7 linked regions of the Homo sapiens genome follow. The protein of the gene in region 3 purifies or fractionates together with the protein of the main gene of each other region. This does not show direct contact. Each region holds a gene or a part of one and is shown on either strand. Other genes may lie near its edges. The genes, in order: CSNK1A1, CAMK2G, BCL10, QKI, BIRC2, PPP2CA and CASP8.

Evidence for each region.
Region 1: the proteins of BCL10 (region 3) and CSNK1A1 purify together in Homo sapiens (affinity purification with western blotting; 4 studies listed by BioGRID and IntAct, with this or other methods). This does not show direct contact.
Region 2: the proteins of BCL10 (region 3) and CAMK2G purify together in Homo sapiens (affinity purification with western blotting, with the first as the bait; one study listed by BioGRID). This does not show direct contact.
Region 4: the proteins of BCL10 (region 3) and QKI purify together in Homo sapiens (co-immunoprecipitation; one study listed by IntAct). This does not show direct contact.
Region 5: the proteins of BCL10 (region 3) and BIRC2 purify together in Homo sapiens (affinity purification with western blotting; 3 studies listed by BioGRID and IntAct, with this or other methods). This does not show direct contact.
Region 6: the proteins of BCL10 (region 3) and PPP2CA purify together in Homo sapiens (affinity purification with western blotting, with the first as the bait; one study listed by BioGRID). This does not show direct contact.
Region 7: the proteins of BCL10 (region 3) and CASP8 purify together in Homo sapiens (co-immunoprecipitation; one study listed by IntAct). This does not show direct contact.

The regions. Positions count from the first base shown.
Region 1 is NC_000005.10:149,506,440-149,509,939, reverse strand, and holds part of CSNK1A1 (casein kinase I isoform alpha), read left to right. Parts: coding exon 1-61; intron 62-2,806; coding exon 2,807-2,913; intron 2,914-3,500.
Region 2 is NC_000010.11:73,864,556-73,868,055, reverse strand, and holds part of CAMK2G (calcium/calmodulin-dependent protein kinase type II subunit gamma), read left to right. Parts: intron 1-3,500.
Region 3 is NC_000001.11:85,266,633-85,270,132, reverse strand, and holds part of BCL10 (B-cell lymphoma/leukemia 10), read left to right. Parts: intron 1-2,150; coding exon 2,151-2,506; 3' UTR 2,507-3,500. UniProt on the Homo sapiens protein: Plays a key role in both adaptive and innate immune signaling by bridging CARD domain-containing proteins to immune activation.
Region 4 is NC_000006.12:163,533,218-163,536,717, reverse strand, and holds part of QKI (KH domain-containing RNA-binding protein QKI), read right to left. Parts: intron 1,737-3,500; coding exon 1,593-1,736; intron 1-1,592. UniProt on the Homo sapiens protein: RNA reader protein, which recognizes and binds specific RNAs, thereby regulating RNA metabolic processes, such as pre-mRNA splicing, circular RNA (circRNA) formation, mRNA export, mRNA stability and/or translation.
Region 5 is NC_000011.10:102,357,214-102,360,713, forward strand, and holds part of BIRC2 (baculoviral IAP repeat-containing protein 2), read left to right. Parts: intron 1-3,500. UniProt on the Homo sapiens protein: Multi-functional protein which regulates not only caspases and apoptosis, but also modulates inflammatory signaling and immunity, mitogenic kinase signaling, and cell proliferation, as well as cell invasion and metastasis.
Region 6 is NC_000005.10:134,198,574-134,202,073, reverse strand, and holds part of PPP2CA (serine/threonine-protein phosphatase 2A catalytic subunit alpha isoform), read left to right. Parts: intron 1-52; coding exon 53-226; intron 227-999; coding exon 1,000-1,089; intron 1,090-1,566; exon of another isoform or gene 1,567-1,577; coding exon 1,578-1,739; intron 1,740-2,869; coding exon 2,870-2,988; intron 2,989-3,500. UniProt on the Homo sapiens protein: Catalytic subunit of protein phosphatase 2A (PP2A), a serine/threonine phosphatase involved in the regulation of a wide variety of enzymes, signal transduction pathways, and cellular events.
Region 7 is NC_000002.12:201,267,036-201,270,535, reverse strand, and holds part of CASP8 (caspase-8 isoform 2 precursor), read right to left. Parts: intron 1,027-3,500; coding exon of another isoform or gene 931-1,026; intron 1-930. UniProt on the Homo sapiens protein: Thiol protease that plays a key role in programmed cell death by acting as a molecular switch for apoptosis, necroptosis and pyroptosis, and is required to prevent tissue damage during embryonic development and adulthood.

The sequences.
Region 1 (3,500 bases), on a different chromosome or scaffold from region 3:
ACAAAAATATGAAAAGATTAGTGAAAAGAAGATGTCCACGCCTGTTGAAGTTTTATGTAAGGTAAGTATGCATGATGAATATTAAAAAAATATAAATGAAGCCAGGCACAATGGCTCACACCTGTAATCCCAGCACTTTGGGAGGCCAAGGCAGTAGGTCACATGAGCCCAGGAGTTCAAGACCAGCCTGGGCAACATAGGGAAACCCCATTTCTACCTTAATAGATAAATGATCCGGCTGGGCACAGTGGCTCAAGCCTGCAATCCCAGCACTTTAGAAGGCCGAGGTGGGCGGATCACTTGAGCCCAGAAGTTCCACAAGACCAGCCTGGGCAACATGGTGAAATACCTTATCTACCAAAAATACAAAAATTAGCTGGGTGCAGTGATACACGTCTGTGGTCCCAGCTACTCAGGAGCCTGAGGCAGGAGGATCACTTGAGCCCGGGAGGCTCCAATTGCAGTGGTGAATCTTGGCTGTCTTGCAAGGATCTGAGATTGTGCCACTGCACTCCAGCCTAGGTAACAGAGTAAGACTCTGTCTCAAATGAGTGAATGAATGAATGATCCAGGAAGAAAAAGGAACATTTTATTTGCCAGCTCTGGAACTTGTAACATTGAATTAGGTAGCTATTCACCATTTTAAATTTACATTTTTATTATTCTAAATATCTTTAACAAGGACTTTTAACATAGGGGTCTTTTTAAATAAGTGTTTTGCTAGGCACAGTGGCTCACAGTTGAGGAGCCACTTGGTAGGCTGAAGGAGGGTGGATCGCTTGAGCCCGGGAGTTCCAGACCAGTCTAGGCAACATGGTGAAACCCCATCGCTACAAAAAATGCAAAAATTAGCCTGGCATGGTGACGCATGCCTGTAATCTCAGCTTCTTGGGGATGCTGGGGCAGGATGCTTGAGCCCAGGAGGTCGAGGCTGCAGTGAGCCAAGATTGCACCACTGCAGTCCAGCTTGGGTGACAGAGTGAGACCCTGTCTCAACAACAACAAAAATAAGTAAAATAATAAAAAATAAGTTAAATAAACGTTTTAAGTAAGTAAAATAAGTGTTTTATGTTTCTGGTTTGTTAGGGCTCTCTAATCTGTTGAAAACTAGGGGTAAATAAACAGGGCAGGTAAACATTTTCAATAGAACCTCATTAATCTATAAGAAAAAGTAAGAAATATTCTCCTTACCCTAAACTAGTGCTGGAAAAGAAAGGTTATCAACAATTAGTACATTAAGGAACAGGGAAACATGCAGACAGATTGGAGCAATCCAAAATAGCAGCTGTCCAACAATACAGGAATACAGAAGACAGTTTGAATCACACTCATTTTTTCTGAAATTTTCAACTTCATAGAAAGGCAATTGAGTTTAGAATAGAGAGGTATTTGTGTCATGATGAATAACCATGATCTCATCCATAAAAAGAAGGCCATATGGTCTTTCAGACAAGAAAGAATTGTATACCTGAAATTAAGTACAAAGCAGTATACAAATAAATAGTTGAGGGAAGAAATCAGTGAGAGTTAAAATAGTAATTATAAAGTGGTGAGATTGTTTTCAGTCTCATTGTCATACTGTTTACCATTAACACGGGCCATAAATGTATATAAATGTTGAGTTTTAGAAAGATGTATAATATGTATTATTTTACATCTTTTAACATATGTATATGTTTCAAGTGGTCACCCAATTTATATCGGTGCAATCAATAAAAAATGTTGCAAGCATTTCCATTCTATCCTTCCTAACTCCAGGACATGAGAAATTTCTCATAAGGTTGTAGAAAGAGATTGTAACTTTAACTCTACAATCATAAGGTTGTAGAAAGAGACTGCCTCCTTTAACTTTACCACTCTCCACATTGGCATTTACTCTAGGAGAGGAGATATAGAGGTTTGTGCTCTTTTAATATTTTGTATTTCCACATTGCTGATTGGGGAAATCCTTTTGGTGACTGATACCTAGAGCCTTGAAAATGTTTATACATTGTTGAGAATCTTTCCTAAGGAGCTAAATGGAAAAATTCTATGCCCACAGATGTACTTAGCAGTATTATTAATAATAGAGAAAAATTAGAATACATCCAAATGTTCAATTATAAAGAACAAGTTAATGATGTATATACTAGGTAGAATATCATGCAACCATTTAGAAACTTCTGAAGGCTGGGCATGGTGGCTCACACCTGTAATCCCAGCACTGTGGGAGACCAAGGAGGCCAAGGGGGGCAGATCTCTTGAGCTCGGGAATTTGAGACCATCCTTGGCAATCTGACAAAACCCTGTCTCTACTAAAAAATACAAAAAATTAGCTGGGCGTGGTAGCTCGTGTCTGTAGTCCCAGCTACTCAGGAAGCTGAGGTTGGAGGATCGCTTGAAGCCTGGGAGGTGGAGGTTGCAGTAAGCTGAGATTACACTACTGCACTCCAGCCTGGGAGACAGATTGAGACCCTGTCTTTAAAAAAAAAAAAAGTTCACGAAGAGGCGCGACTTTGATAAAATGACAGGTTTTAACAAGTGGGCTATGTAAGTTATTTAAGAACATAGTACTGTATAGGAAAAGCACTATATGGGAAGAACATATGTATTTCTTCTACTAATATTGTACATAATAGGGTAGGTAGGGTCATGAAATTTTATTTAAATTTATGAGGAGACCAAGCCATCATTTTAGCTCTCATATCTTCCTATGAAATGGTAAAATATCCCGCCCAAAAATATCTTTTTGCTTATACTTAAATGCATTTATTTTTCTATCTTGAAATGTTTGTTTTTAACTTTGTTTTAACCCTTGAACCTATAGGGGTTTCCTGCAGAATTTGCGATGTACTTAAACTATTGTCGTGGGCTACGCTTTGAGGAAGCCCCAGATTACATGTATCTGAGGCAGCTATTCCGCATTCTTTTCAGGTCAGTTTTTAAGGTATTTTAAGATTATAAACTCTGTGAGGGAAATTGGTTAAATTTACCTAACAAATTCATTCTGATAAATACTAAAGTAAAGCAGATCTAGCTAACATGAATAAAAGGTTTCAGAAACTGATTTATTTGGGACTAATTTGGCATTTTTCTATTTGTAGTGTAAATAGGTGATTTTAGTTTGGAGTGGATAGAGAGTTGAATCATACTCAAAGTAGAATGTAACTTTTCCAGAATAGTTATAATTCATATTAGATATAAGTGGCTGTCAGTGCCTTCTGGAACTCTCCAACTTTGTACAGTACCAAATAAAAAGCAATTAAAATATCACATAGTCATGGAGTCTGATCAAGTGGTAGCAGTCCTAAACTAGGGTAGGGTTCCTTAGGCACAACCCAGAACTGGTCTTGAAAAAGGGGGGGGAATAGATTACATGTGGCTCAAACTCTTAGTTGGAAGAGAGTAAGAATTGAGGTAATCCGCCCAGGTACGGTGGCTCACGCCTGTAATCCCAGCACTTTGGGAGGCCGAGGCGGGCAGATCGCTTGAGGTCAGGAGTTAGAGACCAGCCTGCCCGA
Region 2 (3,500 bases), on a different chromosome or scaffold from region 3:
CAGGAGGAGATGGGCACTTTGCACCTCTTGAATGCCTCTCTGCAGAGCCCCTTTGTCACCTACCCATGGCCAGACAGATCTGCCGCAGGACCGCTGGGGAAATCAAAGCACAAAAGCTTTGTCTGGGGTCTTTTTTTTCTTTTTTGGTTTTGTGCTGCAGGTGCCCATGACTTTGCCAGGGCTCAGACCCAGCGTCCTCAGGCCGTGTGGCCTCCACCCACTCCTTGGCGCCTTTCTTTAAAACACAGGTTCTGGATACTTTGTTCCTGTGATGAATCTTGGCATATCACCTCACACCTCTCCATCTAGGCCCCAAGCTCCAAGCCTGGTGGAGCAAATCCCTCCTCGTTGCTGGCTGAGGCCCCATTCCCGTCTGTACCCACCTCTCTGGGCTGTGCGGTGGGGAGATTTCCAGCCACTCCTCCCCAACACCATCTCCGCTTCCTGGGCCCTATCAGCAGCAGCCGCAGCTTCCCATCTGCTCCCCTCTTTTCTCCTCCCTTTCTTTCCCTTCCCCCCTGCTTGCTGCTGCCCTGGGAGGAGCTATTTTTAGGGGCTGCTTCCTGGGATGTTTTACTTGGGGCTGGTTACCATGAAGGAAATGTCACCAAAACAGTGGGCAAAGGCTGCAGGCACCGGGAGCCCTGCCGGGGGGCATGGAGAACAGACGGCTGACCCTTTTCTGGCCCTTGAGAGCAGCCAGAGTGCCCCCAGGCAGAGCCTTGCCTTCTTGGGGCTTGCTAGTGACCCCTTGGGGATTTTCTCTGTCAAAGCTGATTGAGGGCCTTTTCGCTATAGGGCATTTCTTGGAGCCTCTCGCTTCCCTTGCCTTGAGATCCAGAGGCCAAAGTGGGGCTCAGGTCTTTGTGTCACCAAGTTAAAACTGCTTGAGTGAGGGTTGAAGATAAGGGGAGGATGCTGGGTACATGCACAGAGCCTTGGGGGTTCACATGGGACCATTTCAGGCCCCGTCCCTCTGTATCACAGCCCCCAGCTAGTCACCAGGTGTACATGTGTGAGGGCATTAGAAACCATGGTCCTGCTCTTGTGTGTCGGATGGACTTTGCTTTTAATTGGAGACTCTTTGCATCTTTAGAGTGAGATTCAAAGAGGAAGGGATGTGGCATCACAGTGTCAGGGTGAGGTCGGTGGGATCGTGGCTTGGGATTCCCACTGGTCAGTGTCCCAGGCCCAGGGCTGTGCATAAGCAGCTGGGGAAGGTGGATTATGACATCAAATCCCTGCGATGTCCTTGTTTCTGCTCCTCAGAGTGCCAAGGGGACCAGACGGCGGCCTCTGCTGCTTGGGAAGAAGATGAAAGGCACTCAGGAGGGCAGCAAGTGAGGCCGCCTCCCATGGAGCCCTGAAATCAGTGGGGTTGCAGGAAGTTTCTCACATCCATGTTTAGGGTCATAGGCACAGACCTGCAAAATACCCTTTACAAAGTTAAGAATGTCTTTGAGATTGGAACTTGGGAGAGTCCTCAGTCAGAGTAGGAATGTGCATCCTTTCCCACGTACAGAGGATTGTATGTTTACGTGGCAGCAGGATCTTATTTGAAGCTAGTGCTGGCATTTGTGTTTTTTTTTTAGGAAAATGTCACTAAGTCAAGCAGGCCCATCCCTGAGAGGGCCATGGAGAATCTGTGGCCAGCCCTCCCTGGCCCCCTGACCTGGCAGAGGAAGGAAAGGGCATTGGAGTAGGCTTCTGTCTTCAGGCCAGAGGGGGAGGTGGTTCAGGGGCAGGCTTGGTGCACCCCTTGGCTGCAAGCTATCACCTCCCTATCTGCTTCCTCTTTTCTGCCTCCCCTGGTGCATCTGGTCACTTCTTGCTGCCCTTCCTGTGAAATCGTGGCACCTTGGACCAAGTCCTGAAGCACTTGGGCAGAAGGCGGGAGAGGTTGGGTTTCTAGGATCCTTGTTTCCCAGGGCCTGGCTCTGGCCTGGGCTCAGACCACTCTGGTCTAGGCAGGCTGCTGGGGAAAGGCTGGAGCTGCTTCTGCTTTCTGCTCCTGTTGCCACCTCTGCTAATGATGGGGAAAACCTGCAGAGGGCTGTGGTTGGAGCTGGGCTGAAGGCCGGCAGGGGTGGGTCTCTCCATGGCAGTAGCACACAGGCAGGCAGGAAGTGGCCCTGTGCAAAAGCGGGAAGTGGCAGTTGTCAAACAGGAAGGGGGGGGCTGGGCTGTGGGAGGGGCGGGGATGAGCCTGGTAGAAAGGTGCGTGGAGGAGGGTCCACCTTGGAAGGTCTGAGCCTCTCCCTAGTGGTTACTGGAAGGAGGGGTGTCTCAAGGGGAGACACCTTTGCAGCACCTTGAGATGCCGAGCCAGGGCCCTCCCACTGTGGACCAAGCCCATTCAGTGGCCTCGCCCTTTTTGGGGTTGGAGATGCTGCGTCCAGCTGGGATGCCCTTGCTTTTGGGAAAGATGCTCTAGAAACCACTACTCCATCCTGGAACCCCTCTGCTGCCACTGCTGCTGGGATGGACCCTCTGCTTTTTTGCAGCCGTGGGCCAGCCCTGGATGTGACTACAGGACAGGAAGTGTCAGGGGAAGAGACAGGAGACAACAGCTGGAGAGGCTGGGTGGTGGCCGGGCAGTATGTGGCAGCAGGAACGGGGAGAGCGGGGCAGGTAGAAACTGCTCTGTTCATTGAGGAGAGCTTGTGGATGGCAGGGTGCCACGGCTGCGAGGAAGAGGAGGGAAGCGGACAGTGGCACTTCCTGCGGCGTTCCCCTCTCTCTGAGGAGCCCCTGTTGCTGCCCATCACCTGCAGACTGTAGACACAGGTGGGCCCCGCCAAAACAGGGAGGGACACTCCACCTCCAGGACTGCAATGGAGGACCATGTGGGGAGCCCAGAAGCCAGGCAGGAGGGCTTAGTTGCTGTGTTGCAGACCCTGCATCTGCCTGGGCTGAGGGGACAGTGGGTCCCATTCACAGTGTCTCTGGTGATAGCTGTGGCCACAAGCCCAGCCCAGGAGACCCTGTCAAGCTTCTCACTGGGCCCTTGGAAAGGAGCTATATGCCAGACCTTATGCAAAACTCTTGACCTGTACCACCTCAGTTAAACCTCAGATCTTGCTGTCTCTATTTTAGAAGTGAGGAACCTCTTGGCCGGGTGCCGTGGCTCACGCCTGTAATCCCAGCACTTTGGGAGGCCGAGGCAGGCGGATCATAAGGTCAGGAGATCGAGACCATCCTGGCTAACACAGTGAAACCCCGTCTCTACTGAAAAATACAAAAAAATTAGCCGGGCATGGTGATGGGCGCCTGCAGTCCCAGCTACTCGGGAGGCTGAGGCAGGAGAAGGGCGTGAACCTGGGAGGCGGAGCTTGCAGTGAGCCGAGATCATGCCACTGCACTCCAGCCTGGGCAACAGAGTAAGACTCCATCTCAAAAAAAAGCAAAAAAAACAAACAAAAGAAGTGAGGAACCTCTTTCCCAAGATAATGTGCCTGGCTCACTGTCTCACCTACTTTGGGTCCTAATCAAATGTCACC
Region 3 (3,500 bases):
TTTATAGAAAACTATTATGAAATCCCTGCATACATAAGGATTTGTTTCTAAAGTCAGTAGAATGTAAAGTTAATCTATTCAAGAGTAAGCTCTGAAAATACTGTACATCACACATAAAGAACAGTATTTAGGCAAAGTATTGTAAAAGTCCAACTCTGCTAGTTTTTCTTATGATCACCAGTTGATCACAAGATGAAGTAATTGGCATATGTTTATAGGAATCACGTTGCATAAAATATTCATGACTTTAAACTAGTCTGGCAAGATGTGAAAGCATGGAAACAGATTAAGAGAATAGCAGATTCACCTGTCCCATTTCACTCTCACTCCAGAATATACACTCACTGATTGGAATATTGTGTGGAATTGCCTACACAATTTAAATCCCCAACCCCCTCCTGCCTCTGTTCCTCACTGTCTCTCTCCAGAGCACATAAATGTGCATGTGATGTTCTACAGCTCTTCTAGGCATTAGGGATACAGAAAAGAATAATTTAGGGCTCTGCCCTTAAGGAACTCATAGTCTATAAGTGTCCCCTTGCTGGGACACATTACAAGTTTTCCCTTTTGAGCCATATCTAAGAAAGTAGTTTGTATAGCATGGAATAGACATGCTGACTGTACTGTGAGGTTGAAAAACTAGTGGAAGAAGTGACATGTAAGTGCCCTTTATAGACTATGCAGGTTTTGCCTAAAAATTGTCAACTCAGGGTTTCTGTGCCTGTAGGTTGAATATTTGCTAAGCCTAACAGAAGGGTAAATTGTGTTTGTGTTTATTCTTTCAATCCTCTGGATAATGGTTAACTATACCCTTTGGATATCATAAAATTCTTTGATGGTATCTAAGTTGTTTTCTGCTGTAGCAATACCTGAGACTGGGTAACTTTTAAAGAAAAGAAATGTATTCATTTCTTACAGTTCTGGAGGCTGGTTAAGTCCAAGACCATGGCGCCAGCATCTGGCAAGGGTCATGCATGGTGGAAGGGCAGAAGATGGAAGAGCAAGGGAGGGCAAGAGTGTGAAAGAGAAGAAAAAGGAGTCGAACTCCCAAAATAACTAACCCATTCCCGTGATAATGGCATTAGTCCAGGGCAGAGCCCTCATGACCCTGTTGCCTCCCAAAGGCCTCAGCTCCTAACACTGCTGCAGTGGCAACCAAGTTTCCAACATGTGAACTTTTGGCGGATACATTCGTACCACAGCTAATGGGAACAACCACTGTCATTTGAGTAAACTGTGAGGTTGAGAAACAGGACATTATCTATTGAATTGTAGTTCTCACTTTCCCACAAAGTAGTCCTGGAATGTTGGACATGACTTAACTGTCCTGTGCCTTTTTTTTCTCTTTTTTTTTTTTTTTTTTTGAGACGGAGTCTTGCTCTTGTCACCCAGGCTGGAGTGCAATGGCATGATCTCAGCTCACTGCAACCTCTGCCTCCCAGGTTCAAGCGATTCTCCTACTTCAGCCTCCTGAGTAGCTGCGATTGCAGGCACCTGCCACCACGCCTGGCTAATTTCTGTATTTTTAGTAGAGATGGGGTTTCGCCATGTTGGCCAGGCTGATCTCAAACTCCTGACCTCATGATCTGCCCACTTCGGCCTCCCAAAGTGCTGGGATTACAGGCGTGAGCCACCATGCCCCGCCCTTTTTTCTCGTCTTTAATAATAAGAGACTATCCTAGGTGACCTCTAAAATTCCTTTTAGTTCTAATATCCTATTATTCAAGAATTAGCCATTGTCATTGATCAACAGATAGAATTTTAGCATCTGCCGTTTACATTTTTTTATTAGCTAATATTTTTTGTACCAGAATACTAAAGAATATTTATTGTGAAAGCTATTTCTTATTTTATAAAAAATTTTAGGTGGTTAAGTTTATATGTACGCTGTACCTTAAATGAGAATTACAGCATGTCGTTTAACTTCCACGAGACTATTTTGTTATATAGAAAATGCAAATAATAGTATACTTCATGGTTGTTGAGAAAAGCAAATTAGATTTGAAATAGATTATGACGGAAATTACAAGTTGCTATTTAAATTTTGATTGTGGGGTAACTAGCTTGTAATCTTTAACAAGTCACAAGATGGACAGTGACTCCATTTTTTTAGTTACTTTTTCATTTACATCTGAATAATTTTATTGTAGGACTAAAATGTAGCAGTTGTGAACCTTTTCCAGATGGAGCCACGAACAACCTCTCCAGATCAAATTCAGATGAGAGTAATTTCTCTGAAAAACTGAGGGCATCCACTGTCATGTACCATCCAGAAGGAGAATCCAGCACGACGCCCTTTTTTTCTACTAATTCTTCTCTGAATTTGCCTGTTCTAGAAGTAGGCAGAACTGAAAATACCATCTTCTCTTCAACTACACTTCCCAGACCTGGGGACCCAGGGGCTCCTCCTTTGCCACCAGATCTACAGTTAGAAGAAGAAGGAACTTGTGCAAACTCTAGTGAGATGTTTCTTCCCTTAAGATCACGTACTGTTTCACGACAATGACACTTTATTGCCTTTTAATTTTTAATGATGACAAAAAATGTTTTAAAGAATATGACTTTTTATAAAATGGCTGTAATCATTTGTTTACATTTGATGCATGTCTTTTAAAATGCAATGTAAGCATACTTTGTAAATAGGATTTTTAGAATTAAAAAAGCATACTTCTAGGATAGCTAACTGTAAATCATGTTGATCATGTACTTTTTAGTAATTTCTTTTTTTCCTTTTTAAGGTCTTTCAGTACTTTTTTAAATATTTTCTATTTTAAGACTGATTTTAATAGGGAATATATCTCTATTTGAGAATAGACCCTTACTAGGAAGAACGTTTTTTCCTCAGTGCATTTGTGCTAGAAATTTTCAAGAGTCTAATAGTCTTTGCCAGTCATTCAGCAGCAAATTTTCAGCATTAAGCTGTTCCTGTTCAGTAATAAAACCGGTCACTGATGGGAAAACTGCCAATATAGAAAAATAAAAATCTCTTTTCCACTCCATTGTCGTATAGGCATGTAAACAGCCTCTTTTTGATACTGGAGGAACACTTGATGGAGTGTGAGCCACCTAAGATCTCGGTTTGCCAAAATTCATTTCTAATTAACCTTACTAATTATACTACTTTGTTAGGATTTTCACATTCTTGGCTTAATCATTTTCATTCCTAAAGAAAAATATCTTGGCCTAAACCTCAGTTATTACATGTAATTTGATGAGGTATTTTTTCCTTTTTTCTTTTTTTTTTTTTTTTTTTTTTGAGACAGTCTTGCTCTATCGCCCAGGCTGGAGTGCAGTGGCGCATTCTAGGCTCACTGCAACTTCTGCCTCCCATGCTTACGTGATCCTCTCACCTCAGCCTCTCAAGTAATATAGCTGAGACTACAAGTGTGTGCCACCATGCCTCACTAATTTTTGTATTATTTTTGTAGAGACGGTGTTTTGCCATGTTGGCCAGGCTGGTCTTGAACTCCTGGACTCAAGCAACCTACCCAGCGTGGCCT
Region 4 (3,500 bases), on a different chromosome or scaffold from region 3:
CAAGATTCAATCATTTATTTTTCAATTTACTATGTTATTGCTATGTGCTGGGCTCTATGCTAAACACTAGAAATAAAAATGGTAAGCAAGACAAGAGATTACAGGTGACTGGGTAAATAGAAAATTTAAAAGACGCTAACAATATCCAGTTGATCCTCAAACAACAAGGGAGGGCTCGGTTGTCAGGGACACAGACTGCATCAAAGATCCTTGTGTAACTTTCAACTCTCCCAAAATGTGACGAATAGCCCACTGTCGTCTGGAAGCCTGACAGTTGATCAACATATATTTTGTATGTTTTATATGTTATATACCGTATTCTTACAATAAAGTAAGCTACAGAAAAGAAAATGTTATTAAAGCAGTAAAAGTCGATGTTAAATAACTTTTTCTGATCATGACACTAATTGCCCAGTATACTTTCGAAAATCTCCTTTTCTATACAGTTTTTCAATACCACACAATTAAGGAAAATGAGAAAGATTCCATGGTTTAATAGTACACAAATATAGATTTTAGTTTATATTTAACCTGATCATTAAAAAAAATAAAATCTACCAACAGAATTTACATAAAACTCTTTTATTCCAAGGAATTAATTTCATCAAGTTAATGGGAAATGTTTATGATTTGTGAGTTTACTTGTTGAATAAACTATCAGGGTAATAAAGAATAGGCTATCTGGGAAATAAAAAGCAGCAGGAACCATAACTCATTTATGTAAATGCCAATGCTTTTTGTTGGACACAATACTAACAGTATTCCTAGTTTTTTCTTTTCTTTTTTGAGACAGGGTCTCACTCTGTCACCCAGGCTGGAGTATAGTGGCGCAATCTCAGCTCACTGCAACCTCTGCCTCCCAGGCTCAGGCGATTCTCATGCCTCAGCCTCCCAAGTAGCTGGGATTACAGGTGCCTGCCATCACGCCCGACTTATTTTTTGTATTTTTAGTAGAGATGGGGTTTCACCATGTTGGCCAGGCTGGGCTCAAACTCCTGACCTCAGGTGATCCAACCGCCTCAGCCTCCCAAAGTGCTGGGATTACAGGCATGAGCCACCGCACCCAGCCCTAGTTTTTCCAATAGCAAATTAGGGTCCACATTTCCATATAGTTTTACTAATATAAGAAAAAAAAATTAATGGCCCAGAAAACCAGTAATTTATTTTTCATTTCCCGTTAAAAAAAAAAAAATTATACTCTGGGAGTAGTACAATTATTATTTCTAAAAATATTAAAGGGTTAAGAAACAATAAGGAGCCAACCCAAGGAAGGGGGGCAGAGGGAAGAGATGGGGGAAGAGATGGGGAAAGAGAAACCGGGAAGGAAGGAGAACTGATAACACAAAAGCATCTGGATAATTTCTTACGCGACGTCACCCTCCAAAACCCCTTTTAATGTCTATCTAAGGACCCCTAAATACGAACTTTATGTTTTTATTATGTTAGAAGTATCAGTCAGGTGTTTTTAATTTTATGCTTAAATAAAATTTCTAACAACCAATAACCTATTCCTTATAAACATTACGATAATTTAAAATAAACTGACAAAAAAGGACGAGGCCCAAATCTAAGGTCTGGAAATTATTACTTACTGCAGGTACCAATAATTTCTTCACTTCTTCAACTGCTCTCTTCAATTTGATTTCTGCTCTGTTCTGAGCATCTTCCACAGTGATTAGTACATGTAAATCTTCATTTAGATGCTCCCAATTGGGCTTGCCTCTATTTTGCTCCTCCTAAAAAATTTACAGAGTACATGATTAAAATTATTCTCTTTAAAGAGAGAGCACATCTTTCATAATACTAACCTGTTGTCAATTATTTCAGCTATGTTTGCATTATTTTGCTATGATGGCACAAGTCTTTGAATTATTTTTCTGGGTCCTCAAAGTTTGATTGAATGTGAGACTACTGGGTCAAATGATAATTAATCCAACAAGTATTTACTGAGCACTTACTATCTACCAGGCACAGAACCAGATGCTAAAGATCAGCCCCAAGCGTGCTCCTATGCACTAGAAGCATACATCATCATCATGTATGTAGTATCATACAACATACATCTGATACTGTCCTTACATTACCATGAAAAACACTTTGAGAAACATGTCATTATTTCTGCATTTTACTTATAAGTAAACAGAAGGTCATCAAGGTTAAGGGGGTCACCTCTCAATGTCACACAGCTAACAGGCTGTCAATTTAGGAACTGAATCAAAGTTTTCATTCTCTAATTCAGTGATCTTTCCACTTCATTACAACTGCTTTTAATGACATTGGTTGTATTCAGCATTAGAAAAGGTATTTTGCATATAGATGTTATTGTGTAAGATGACTACCACTTGTTTTAAGTATTTCATGCGGTAATTATGAAAATAGTTTTATCTACATTCCCATCAGACCATACCTTAAAATTAACTGTAAGGCTACTCTTTAATTATATCAAGTCATAAATACTAGTTTCATAGAGAATATCTATATTTCATTTCCTTAATGTCTTCTAGTAAGAAATATCCCCATGTTGAAAACCTGGTTAAGCTACAGGGAGGTTAAGTAGAGTTGGCATAATTTCAGAATCGCTGTTTTAAGTTTTAGAGAAAGTGTTTTTAAATAAAATAAGAATATATAAGTAGTATATAAATGGTAAATATAAATGCACCTGGCACACAGCAAGGTACCACAGACAAACAATAAATATCTGCTGTTTTTGGACCTTTATTTTAGAAGTTACTATTTACCTAATTGTTAGATTCCAGTAAAAGAAAATAAAGCAGGCATAATAAAACTGCTTTCTGCAACAATTCACATGATTGAGCTTAGCCAATAAGGCTAAAAATAAATTTTAACAGTAAATGCTTCTGCTTTATTTTTAATCAACACATCTTTAGGATGAAAATGCATCCACATATTGTAAGGGGATACAGGGAAAAAAAAAATCAGACACAATCCTATGCTGGGCCATCTATGTATTTCCAAAGAGTGAACTCTGAGTCAGCACAGCATTTTACAGGGGTACCATCTGTCCGACACTGTGTGAACCACCAGCTCAGAATATCTGACTGTTTCAACATAAGGTCACATTACATTCTTTTTGATGATGTCATATCTTTACAAAGCTAGGTTGTTAGCGGTTGCTGTAATAAAAATCAAGAACATACAAAAATCAATGTGGAACAAGAAAAGAGGGTGGCAGTACAAAAATCTGATTCCAAAGTTTGAGAATTTGAACAGCACCCAAGAAAATACAAATGCTATTAGTAAAAATGTGGTTATTTACAAATAAAATGTATAGTCTGTTTCAAAGTTGTTTGTAGAGTAAATATTTAATAAACAGAACTCTGAAATATTTCTTTTTGACTAGGGTACACCATGCAAACTAAGTGGGAAACCAAGGAGTCAATGAATCAAGAAACTGGAAACCTCAGGGTTATCTGTATGGCAAGAAATAAAATATGTATTAATATCTCTAACTGTGGCAAGAAAAATTAGTTTTGTTATCC
Region 5 (3,500 bases), on a different chromosome or scaffold from region 3:
TTGGCTTCATAAAATGAGTTTGGAAGTATTCCCCCCTCCTCCCTCCTTACTCCCTCTTCCCTCCCTCTTCTTCCTTCTTCCTCCTCCTCCCTTTTCTTTCTTCTTCCTCCTTCTTTCCTCCTCCTCCTCCTCTTCCTTCTTCTCCTCCTCTTCCTTTCTTCTTCTTTCTTCTTCTTGATAGAACTGTGCTATGAGGTCATCTGTTCCTGGGCTTTTTCTTTGTCAGAAGAGTTATGACTACTGATTCAATCTCCTTACTAGTTATAAGTCTTTTCAGATCTTCTATTTCTTCTTTATTTTAGTCTTGATAAATTACAAGTTTCTAGGAATGCATCCATTTCTTCTAGGTTATACAGTTTTTTGGTGAATAATTGTTCATGGTAGTCTCTTATGGTCATTTGCGTTTCTGTGTTATCAATGGTAACATCTCTTGGTTTTGATTTTATTTATTTTCGTCTTCCTTTTTACTAGTCAAACTAAAGCTTTGTTGATTTTACTTATCTTTTCAAAATCCAGCTCTTAGTTTTAGTGGTCTTTTCTATTGTTTTTGTAGTCTCTATTTCATGAGATTTTGTTATTTCCTTCTGCTAACTTTTTCTAGTTCCTTTAGATGTAAAATTACGGTGTTTATTTAAGATTTTTTTTAAATATAGGCGATTATTGCTATAAACTTTCCTTTTAGAACTGCATTTGTTCTATACATTTTGCTATGTCGCATTTCAATTTTAATATTTCTTGTGATTTTTTAAAATTTTCTTTTTGATTTCTTCTTTGACCCATTGATTATTCAGGAGTATTTTGTTCAATTTCCACATAGTTGTCAGCTTTCCAACTTTCATTCTGTTATTGATTTCTGGTTACATACCATTGTGGTCTGAAAAGATACTTGATAGGATTTCAGTCTTCCTCAGTTTGTTGAGTCTTGTTTTGTGACCTGCTGCATGATCTACGCTGGATAATTTTTCTTGTGTGCTTAAGAAGAATGTGTATTATCTGCTGTTTGATGGAATGTTCTGTATAAAGGTTGAGTATCCCCAATCCAAAAATCCAAAATCCAAAATGTTCCAAAATTTAAAACTTTTTGAGTACCAACATGATGCTGAAAGGAAATGCTCTTTGGAACATTTTTGGTTTTGCATTTTTGGATTAGGGATGCTCAGCTGGTAAACATAAGGCAGGTATTCCCAAATCTAAAAAATGTAAAATTCAAAACACTTCTAGTCCCAAGCATTTCAGATAAGGAATATTCAACCTGTATGTTAGATCCATTAGATCCAGTGTATAGTTGAAGTCCAATATTTCCTTACTGATTTTCTGTCTGGATGACCCATCCATTATTGAAAGTAGGATTTTTGAAGTCTTCTAGTATTATTGTGTTACTATCTATTAATGTCTTCAGATCTGTTAATATTTTCTCTGTTTATTTAGGTGGTCTGATGTTGGGTACATATATATATTTACAGATACTGTATCCTCTTGTGGAATTGGCCCCTTTCTCATTATATAATTACTTTCTCTGACTCTTTTTACAGTTTTTGATGTAAAGTCTGCCCTATCTGATAAAACTTTAGCTTCCTCTGCTCTCTTTTGGTTTCCATTTGCATGGAATATCTTTTTTCCTATACCCATGCATGTGCTTAAAGGTGAATTGAGTCTCTTGTAGACAACCTGTAGCTGAATCTTGTTTTCTTTATCCATTCAGCTGCTCTTTATCTTTTGATAGGAGAATTTGGCCCATTTACATTCAAGGTAACTATTGATGGGTAAAGACTTCTGTCATTTTGTAATTGTTTTCTGATTGTTTGGCAGATTATTTGTTTCTTCCTCTCTTGCTGTCTTCCCTTGTGTTTAGATGATTTTCTGTGGTGGTATGCTTTGATTCCTTTATATCTTTTGTGCATCTACTATTGGTTTCTACTTTGTGGCTATCATGAGGTTTACATAGAACATCTTATAGTTATAGTAGTCTGTTTCAAGCACTAACAACTTAATTTCAATTGCATTAAAAAACTGTACTGTTACTCAGACCCTCCTGCACATATTTTATGTTTTTGATGTCATTATTTGCATTTTATATTGTGTATTCATGAAAAAATTATTGAAGCTATAGTTATTTTTAATACTTTTTTTTAAAAACCTGTATTTTAGAATTAAGTAATTTACACATGACCATTACAAATTTAGTATATTATTAATTTGATTATATATTTATCTTAACAGTGAGTTTCATACTTTCATATGTTTCCATGTTGCTAATTAGTGTCCTTTCATTTCAGCTTGGAGAACTCTTCAGCGTTTCTTGTAAGGCGCGTCCAGTGGTGATAAACTCCCTCAGCTTTTGTTTGTCTGGGACTGTTTATATCTCTTTCATTTCTGAAGGACAGCTTTGCTGGGATACATATTCTTGTCTGGTAGTTTTGTCTTTCAGCACTTTGAATATATCATCCAACTCTCTCCTGGCCTACAAGGTTTTTGCAGAGAAATCCACTTGTGGTCTTATAGGGTTTCTCTTGTAGAAGATGAGTTTCTTTTCTGTTACAGTTTTAAAATTCTCTTTCATCTTCTATTTTTGCCAGTTCATTATAATGTGTGTCAGTGAAGTCTTCTTTGGGTTGAATCTTTATGGGGTCCTATGAACTTCCTGTACCTGGATATCTTTCCCTAGATTTATGAAGTTTTCAGCATTTTTTTTTTAAATCAGCTTTCTGTCCTTTCTCTCTTTTCCTTCTTGAATTCTCGGGTTTGTTTTTCATTTTCTTGGGTTTTTTTTTTTGATGGTGTCTTGTTCTGTCACCCAGGCTGGAGTGCAGTGGCATGATCTCAGCTCACTGCAACCTCCACCTCCCAGGTTCAAGTGATTCTCCTGCCTCAGCCTCCCACGTAGCTGGGACTACAGGTGTGCACCACCATGCCCAGCTAATTTTTGTATTTTTAGTAGAGACGGGGTTTTGCCATGTTGGCCAGGCTGGTCTTGAACCCCTGACTTCATGTGATCCACCCGCCTCAACCTCCCAAAGTGCTGGATTACAGGTGTGAGCCATCGTGCCTGGCCTTGAATTCTTAAAATGCAAATATTGTTTTGCTTGATGGTGTCCTATAATTCAGGTAGGCTTTCTCCACTATTCTTTTTTTTTTCTTTTTTTCTCCTCTGACTAGATAATTTCACATGATCTGCCTTTGAGTTCACAGGTTCTTCTGCTTGATCAGGTCTGCTATTGATGCTCTCTATTGCATTTTTTGTTGTTATGTTCTTCAGCTCCCGAATTTGTTTCTTTTTATTATTCCTATCTCTGTGTTGAATTTCTCATTTGTTTGTATATATTTTTTTATTTCATTATCTGTGTTCTTTTGTAGCTCACTGAGTTTGCTTGAAACAATTATTTTGAATTCTTTATCTGTTAGTTCATAGATCTCCATTTCTTTGTGGGTGATTACTGGAAAATTACTGAGTTTCTTTGCTAATGTCACGTTTCTTTTTTTTTTTTTCTTTCTGTTTCTTG
Region 6 (3,500 bases), on a different chromosome or scaffold from region 3:
CATTGGTTTTTGAAAGAGCTAGTTGTTTATGTTTTGCATTTTATTGTTTTAGGTTCGTTACCGTGAACGCATCACCATTCTTCGAGGGAATCATGAGAGCAGACAGATCACACAAGTTTATGGTTTCTATGATGAATGTTTAAGAAAATATGGAAATGCAAATGTTTGGAAATATTTTACAGATCTTTTTGACTATCTTCCTCTCACTGCCTTGGTGGATGGGCAGGTATGTGGATCTAAAACTCATTGCTGATTATTTCAGAGAATCTGCTTTCTTTAGTGTTCAGGTGCTTATGACTCTTTCCACTCTTAACACCCCTTTGGGGATATTTTTTAATAGATATTGATAGCATTCATTCAAACTTAAAAAAAATTTAATTTGACAAATGTGTCCAACTTTTTTAAGTGCATTATTCTTTATATCAGGCACTGAACTGTATGGTGGGATCACAGGGGTGGGTGATGTAGCCCATTTACCCTCTCAGACTGTTTTTGGACAAGTCTGGGAGATGTAAGGAGCTAATTATTGGCCTAGGTAGATGTGCACACAAAAGAACTTACAATAAAATTTTATGAGTATGAAGATACTAGTCTCTGGCAAAGGGCAGGAGTGATATCCAAGAAGTTTTCTCAAAGGAGCTGTTTGAAGTGGAGTCTGGTTGTGACAGCGATGGTCTATTAGGAAGAACAGGAGTGTACTCAATAGTTCAGAGTGGGCTGGAGCAAAGATGAACCCTGCAAAGTCAAGTCTCATTCAGGCAGAGCACAGAAACACCAGAGGGGCCAAGTGATGGGGGTGCCCAGCTCATTTTTTAAAATTTTTGTAGAGACACAGGGTCTTGCTGTGTTGCTCAGGTTGGTCTCAAACTCCTGGCCTCAAGCAGCCCTCCTGCCTCAGCTTCCCAAAGTGCTGGGGTTACAGGCATGAGCCACTGTGCCCAGCCAAGAATGTTTACAAATTTTTTAGGTGAGGTTAACCTTTTAAACCACTCTTTTCAGATCTTCTGTCTACATGGTGGTCTCTCGCCATCTATAGATACACTGGATCATATCAGAGCACTTGATCGCCTACAAGAAGTTCCCCATGAGGTATGACTTTTATTTGATAAAATTCTTTCAGAAAACTTATTAGGGAGTGGAGAAGTTTAATTGTAAGTTCATTAGATGTATTCTCTCATATAATTCTCAAAAACAACTTGAGGTGTGAGCACTCTTGTCTGCCCTGTTGTTCAAAAGAAGCTGACATTAAGAAACCTGCCAAGATCACAACAGCTGTGAAGCTGGGCTTATTAGGACCTGGGTTGTCTGTCTTAGACTCTGAAATTTGCATAATATAGGCAGATTAATTAGGGCATGTTGCTGCTGGGTCCCATGGATGTCAGCTGTGTCTCATAAAGTCTGCTGGAAAATACATCTTATTTGATGCAGATGTTTGACTTCAACTGCACAGTCTATTAGCATTGTCCACAAACATCACTCAAAAAGGGTGGCTTAGGGTGCTGCTTCTGATGAATTACTCAAATAATGTGTTAACCATGTTTGTAAAAGGCATTTTATAACTTGAAGTTATTTTTTAGGGTCCAATGTGTGACTTGCTGTGGTCAGATCCAGATGACCGTGGTGGTTGGGGTATATCTCCTCGAGGAGCTGGTTACACCTTTGGGCAAGATATTTCTGAGACATTTAATCATGCCAATGGCCTCACGTTGGTGTCTAGAGCTCACCAGCTAGTGATGGAGGTATGCTGTGTTCTCTGAAATATGACTTGTTTTTTTAGTAAACTTAAGGAAAGAAGATATTAGGGAGTTTTAAATTAATGACATTTGTGAGAAATTCCATCTATTCCTTCTGATGAGTTTATCATTATAGCCTGAGCCTTTTCAGTAGATGCACACTACTAGAATTAAAAGCTCAAGCTTTTGATTACAATGAATCCATTAACATGTTTTCAGAGAAATCTGAATGACTAGGAAGTACTTGAGATTTAAGAGTGGGAAAGTAAGATATAGGGAGTTGGTGTGCATGTATGATATTTTATGATCCCAATGTTATTTCGTATATTTAATGTATGTATGTAGGAGAGACTGGAAAGAAATACACGAAAATGTTTTAAGTGGTCCTTTGGATGCTAGGATTACAGGTGATTTGAAAGAAGGGAAAGAGGCAAAGGTTCTTGACATGGCACACTGATTAGAATATTTTTAAAATAAGGTCCTAATTAGATTAATACTAGTACAACTCTGTGGTTATCAATAAAATCTGACTTTGCTAAAGGTAAAGAAATTGTGAACAATACTAAACAAAAAGTAACAAAAGTAGCTCATGCATTCAGGTGGATGGACTTTGAGGAAATGAGGCTGGAGATCCTAGAGGCATATTGCATTTGTTCCTGGGCAGTGACCAACTTAACAGGCCTTTACCTGTGACTGACAAAATTGGTAAGGTTCTGGTCTCCAGGATTAAGTATCTACTTCTCTAGGGAATGGCCACTTAAATACTTATTCTTAAATCATGTTTTAAGGCCACTGCAAGAGAAGAGGCTAATGAGACATTGTCATTTACAGCAAGGCAGATACATGAGAAGTATTTCATTCTTTGGTGGTTGCTGCTGTTTGTTAAAGCCTTTTTTTTTTTAAAGTACTAAAAAAAAAACAAGTTTTGTAATTAGGGGGAAAATAAATACATGTGTACCTTACAGGTTGTATAAAGTACAGGAGATTATTAAGTCATCCAGAAAAAAAGCATTAACATTTCTTAAGCCCCTTTGGCAGGGGTGGGAATGAGTAGAGATTTTTTTCTCTCTTGAGTGAAGTAACATTTAGTTGAATTGAGGGAGTAAAGTAAGATTTTTGTCTCCTTTTCCTTGCAGGGATATAACTGGTGCCATGACCGGAATGTAGTAACGATTTTCAGTGCTCCAAACTATTGTTATCGTTGTGGTAACCAAGCTGCAATCATGGAACTTGACGATACTCTAAAATACTCTTTGTAAGTAATTCTACCTGAACATTTTCTTGCATTACTGAATATGTAGGGTTTTGGTTTATTTATTTTGAGAGAGAGGGTGTCACTATATTGCCCAGTCTTGTCTCGAACTCCTAGGCTGAAGTGATCCTTTCACCTTGGCCTCCTAGAGTGTTGGGGTTACAAGTATAAGATACAGTGCCCAGCCTGAATACATAGTTTAAATGTGAGGTTTAAGAGTTTAAGGGGGCCAGGCGCGGTGGCTCATGCCTGTAATCCCAGTACTTTGGAAGGCTCGGGTGGATCACCTGAGATCAGGAGTTCGAGACAAGCCTGACCAACATGGTGAAACCCCTTCTCTACTAAAAATACAAAAATTAGCCCAGCATGGTGGCGCCTGCCTGTAATCCCAGCTACTCAGGAGGCTGAGGCAGGAGAATGGCATGAATCCGGGAGGCAGAGGTTGCAGTGAGCCAAGATCGCGCCACTGCGTTCCAGCCTGGGCAACAGAGCGAGACTTCGTCTCAAAAAAGTGT
Region 7 (3,500 bases), on a different chromosome or scaffold from region 3:
GTCCCCTAGTGGCCAGGTCCGTACCCTTTTTATTTTCATAAACCCAGAGGGTTGTGAGGTGCAATGATTGAGCTCAGCGGACCCAGGCTATTGGTGTTGGAGCCTTGGTTCCACTATCTTTGAGCAGTGTTAACTTTAGACATGTTACACATTTTTTCCTCGTCCATAGACTGAAGATAATTATCCGTAACCACATCATAGGAAGGTTTCGAGGGTTACACAAATAAGTTTATGTGAAGTACTTAAATCAGTCTTTGGCAACACACTAAGTGCTCAATGAGTGATAGGTGTTACTATTTCCTAATCTATGCCTATCACATTTATGTGATTGGCACATTTAGGCTCTTGGAATATGCTTGTCGAATAGGTGAACAAAGGAATGTTTTAGAAGTCAGCAAACCTTTCAATACTATGGTGTAAAGGAAAATAATTTTAATACAAAAACACGTTGACTTTAAAATTTAATTAGAAAAGTAAAATTCTGAAAATAAAAATGGCGTAGAAACAGAAATTACTCAGTATTACCATCTGCCTTATCCCCCTTCTCATGGACTCTCTACCCTAGAAGTGTTTATCTAAAGCTTTCAGTTTGGCCAAAATTGGATCTAATCCAAAGCTACTCTGACTCTTTCACCTTTATTACAAGGTATTTACCCTTTTGCTTTCCTCATTATTGAAGCCTATAGGCTTTCTTGTACCATCACCATTTAGTAATGAACCTGAATAGTTTATAAGATCTTTATTTTATAGGTAGCAATTATAACTGGAAAATAAAATGTCTAGTGTTTTCTTATAATGGTAAGTGGTCACCCTAGCATATTTATTAGCTTCTGGCTAGTATTCAATGATAATGAACAAGCAGTAAGTCAGGATTGCCCGGACCCTTTTATCTCTAAGCCAATACATTAAAGATTTTAAGAGAGATCCTGCCTTATTAATAGATGATCGACCCTCCGCCAGAAAGGTACAGACTGTGTCTGGCACTGGCTGTTTGCTTCAGCCCAGCTCATGCGGCAGAAGTGGAACCTTCAAAGGACCAAGATGGTGGGCACAAGATGAGACCCCCCTCGGCTTTCCTTGTTCTGGGGCTGTGGGTTTTTAGGACTAACTGGCGCCTTAATGAATAAGTGCCTTATAAAGACTTCACAATGCTAGTAAACCAAAGCTATCTAGTGTACTGGTTGAATAGTGTTCTCCCCTCTTCCCCAAAATTCATGTCTATCTGGAATATGAGAATGCGACCTTATGTGGACCCAGGACGTTTGCAGATAAAATCTCATTAAGATGAGGTCATGCTGGCCAGGCGCAGTGGCTCATGCCCGTAATCCCAGAACTTGGGAGGCTGAGGTGGGCAGATTGCATGAGCCCAGGAGTTCAAGACTAGCCTGGGCAACATTTTGAAACTCCATCTCTACAAAAAAATACAAAAATTAGCCAGACATGGTGGCGGGTGCCTGTAGTCCCAGCTACTTGGGAGGCTGAGGTGGGAGGATTGCTTGAACCCAGGAGGTGGAGGTTGCACTGAGCCGAGATCATGCCACTGCACTCCAGCTTGGGCGATGTAGTGAGACACTGTCTCACACACACACACACACACACACACACACACACACACACACACACACAAAGATGAGGCCATACTGGATTAGGTGGGCCCTAATTCCTAATCCAGTGACTGTCTCATAAGAGGGAGATTTAGACACAGAGAAGGGAACATAGGCAGAGACTGCTGTGCCTCATCTACAAGACAAGGAGCACTGAGGATTCCTCCACCCACCCGAAGCAGGGAAAGGCATGAAAAAGATTATTCCTCGGAGCCTCTTAAAAGGGAACCAACACTGTTGGCATCTTGACTTCTGACTCAGGCCTCCAGAACTGTGAAAACACATTTTAAAAACTGTTTTAAACCTGCTAGTTTGTGTTACTTTGTTACAGCAGCCCTAGGAAACTTATATACCCAGAATATCTCTTTCTTTTTTTTTTTGAGACAGAGTTTCACTCTTGTTGCCCAGGCTGGAGTGCAATGGCATAATCTCAGCTTACTGCAACCTCCACCTCCTGGGTTCAAGCAATTCTCCTGCCTCAGCCTCCCAAGTAGCTGGGATTACAGGCGTGAGCCGCCACACCCAGCTAATTTTTGTATTTTTAGTAGAGATGAGGTTTCACCATGTTGGCCAGGCTAGTCTTGAACTCCTGACCTCAGGTGATCAGCTCTCCTCAGCATCCCAAAGTGCTGGGATTACAGGCGTGAGCCACCTCACCCGGCCCAGAATATCTCTTTTTTCACTTAAAATCAAAATGGTCAAGCCTTGGCTGGGCATGGTGGCTCACACCTATAATCCCAGCACTTTGAGAGGTCAAGGCTGGTGGATAACTTAAGGTCAGGAGTTCGAGACCAGCCTGGCCAACATGGTGGAACTCCGTCCTACTAAAAATACAAAATTAGCTGGGCATGGTGGCACACACCTGTAATCCCAGCTACTCAGGAGGCTGAGGCAGAAGAATCACTTGAACCCTGGAGGTAGATGTTGCAGTGAGCCGAGATCATGCCACTGCACTCTAGCCTGGGTGATGAAGCGAGACTCCGTCTCAAAAACAAAACAAAACAAAACAAAAAATAGTCAAGCCTCAAAACAAAAAATAGTCTCTGAGAATAGAAAGACCAGAGCATTCATGGGCTGAGCCATCAGAGGACAGCAGCTGTCAGCCCTGGTTGTGAACCCTTTCCATCTCACATGCCATAGTTATCAACAAGCAAACAGAGACAATGAAATGGGCCCAGAACGAAGACTTCAGTAGAAGTTTCCTGAAAGCAAAGCTAAAATTGCTTTAAGTAGTGTCCGATAATAGGAGATGTTGAAAGAGAGAAAGTGACAATGTGTTTCTGTTTTTAAAGTCTTGTCACAGCATCATGAAGTTGTAACTGAATGGGGTTTCTCTCTCACACCTTTGGTTACCCACTCTCCCTAGGGTGGGGAGAAGCTGAGTTTTACAGCCTTTGGCAGGATGACCCAACGTGCCACTGTCTTCCTATAGAAGCTTAGAACTGTCATACAGCCGGGCTCACAGGAACTGGGCAGCCTCGGTGGAGACTGCCTAGCTGTATGTGCCAGGCCAGCGGCTTACAGCTCCGTAAAGAACTTAGTCATTCGAGTCTTTAAGTGTGGCAGAAAACCCTTAAATCTCATTGAAAATTTTCATAGCCATCCGCAAGCAGGTGGGAGGGGGATTTCAGGGTGGGAAGCCATGATGCTTTACTCAATGGATGGGCAAAGTAAGCACACAATCTGGATATCGAGAGGCATCAAGATAAGAGAGGAAAAAAATGAGAACACTTAGAAAAACTCTATTATAACTTCAGCATACCTCTAAGTAATGTTTCACTTTGAAAAATAAATTTTTATTTTATGGTCTTAGCATTTCTATAGAATTATATATAAGGCCCCTAAATTTCTTAATCTGGCTCCGGTGGGACATCTTCCCAAAGCCTCCCAAGTGAT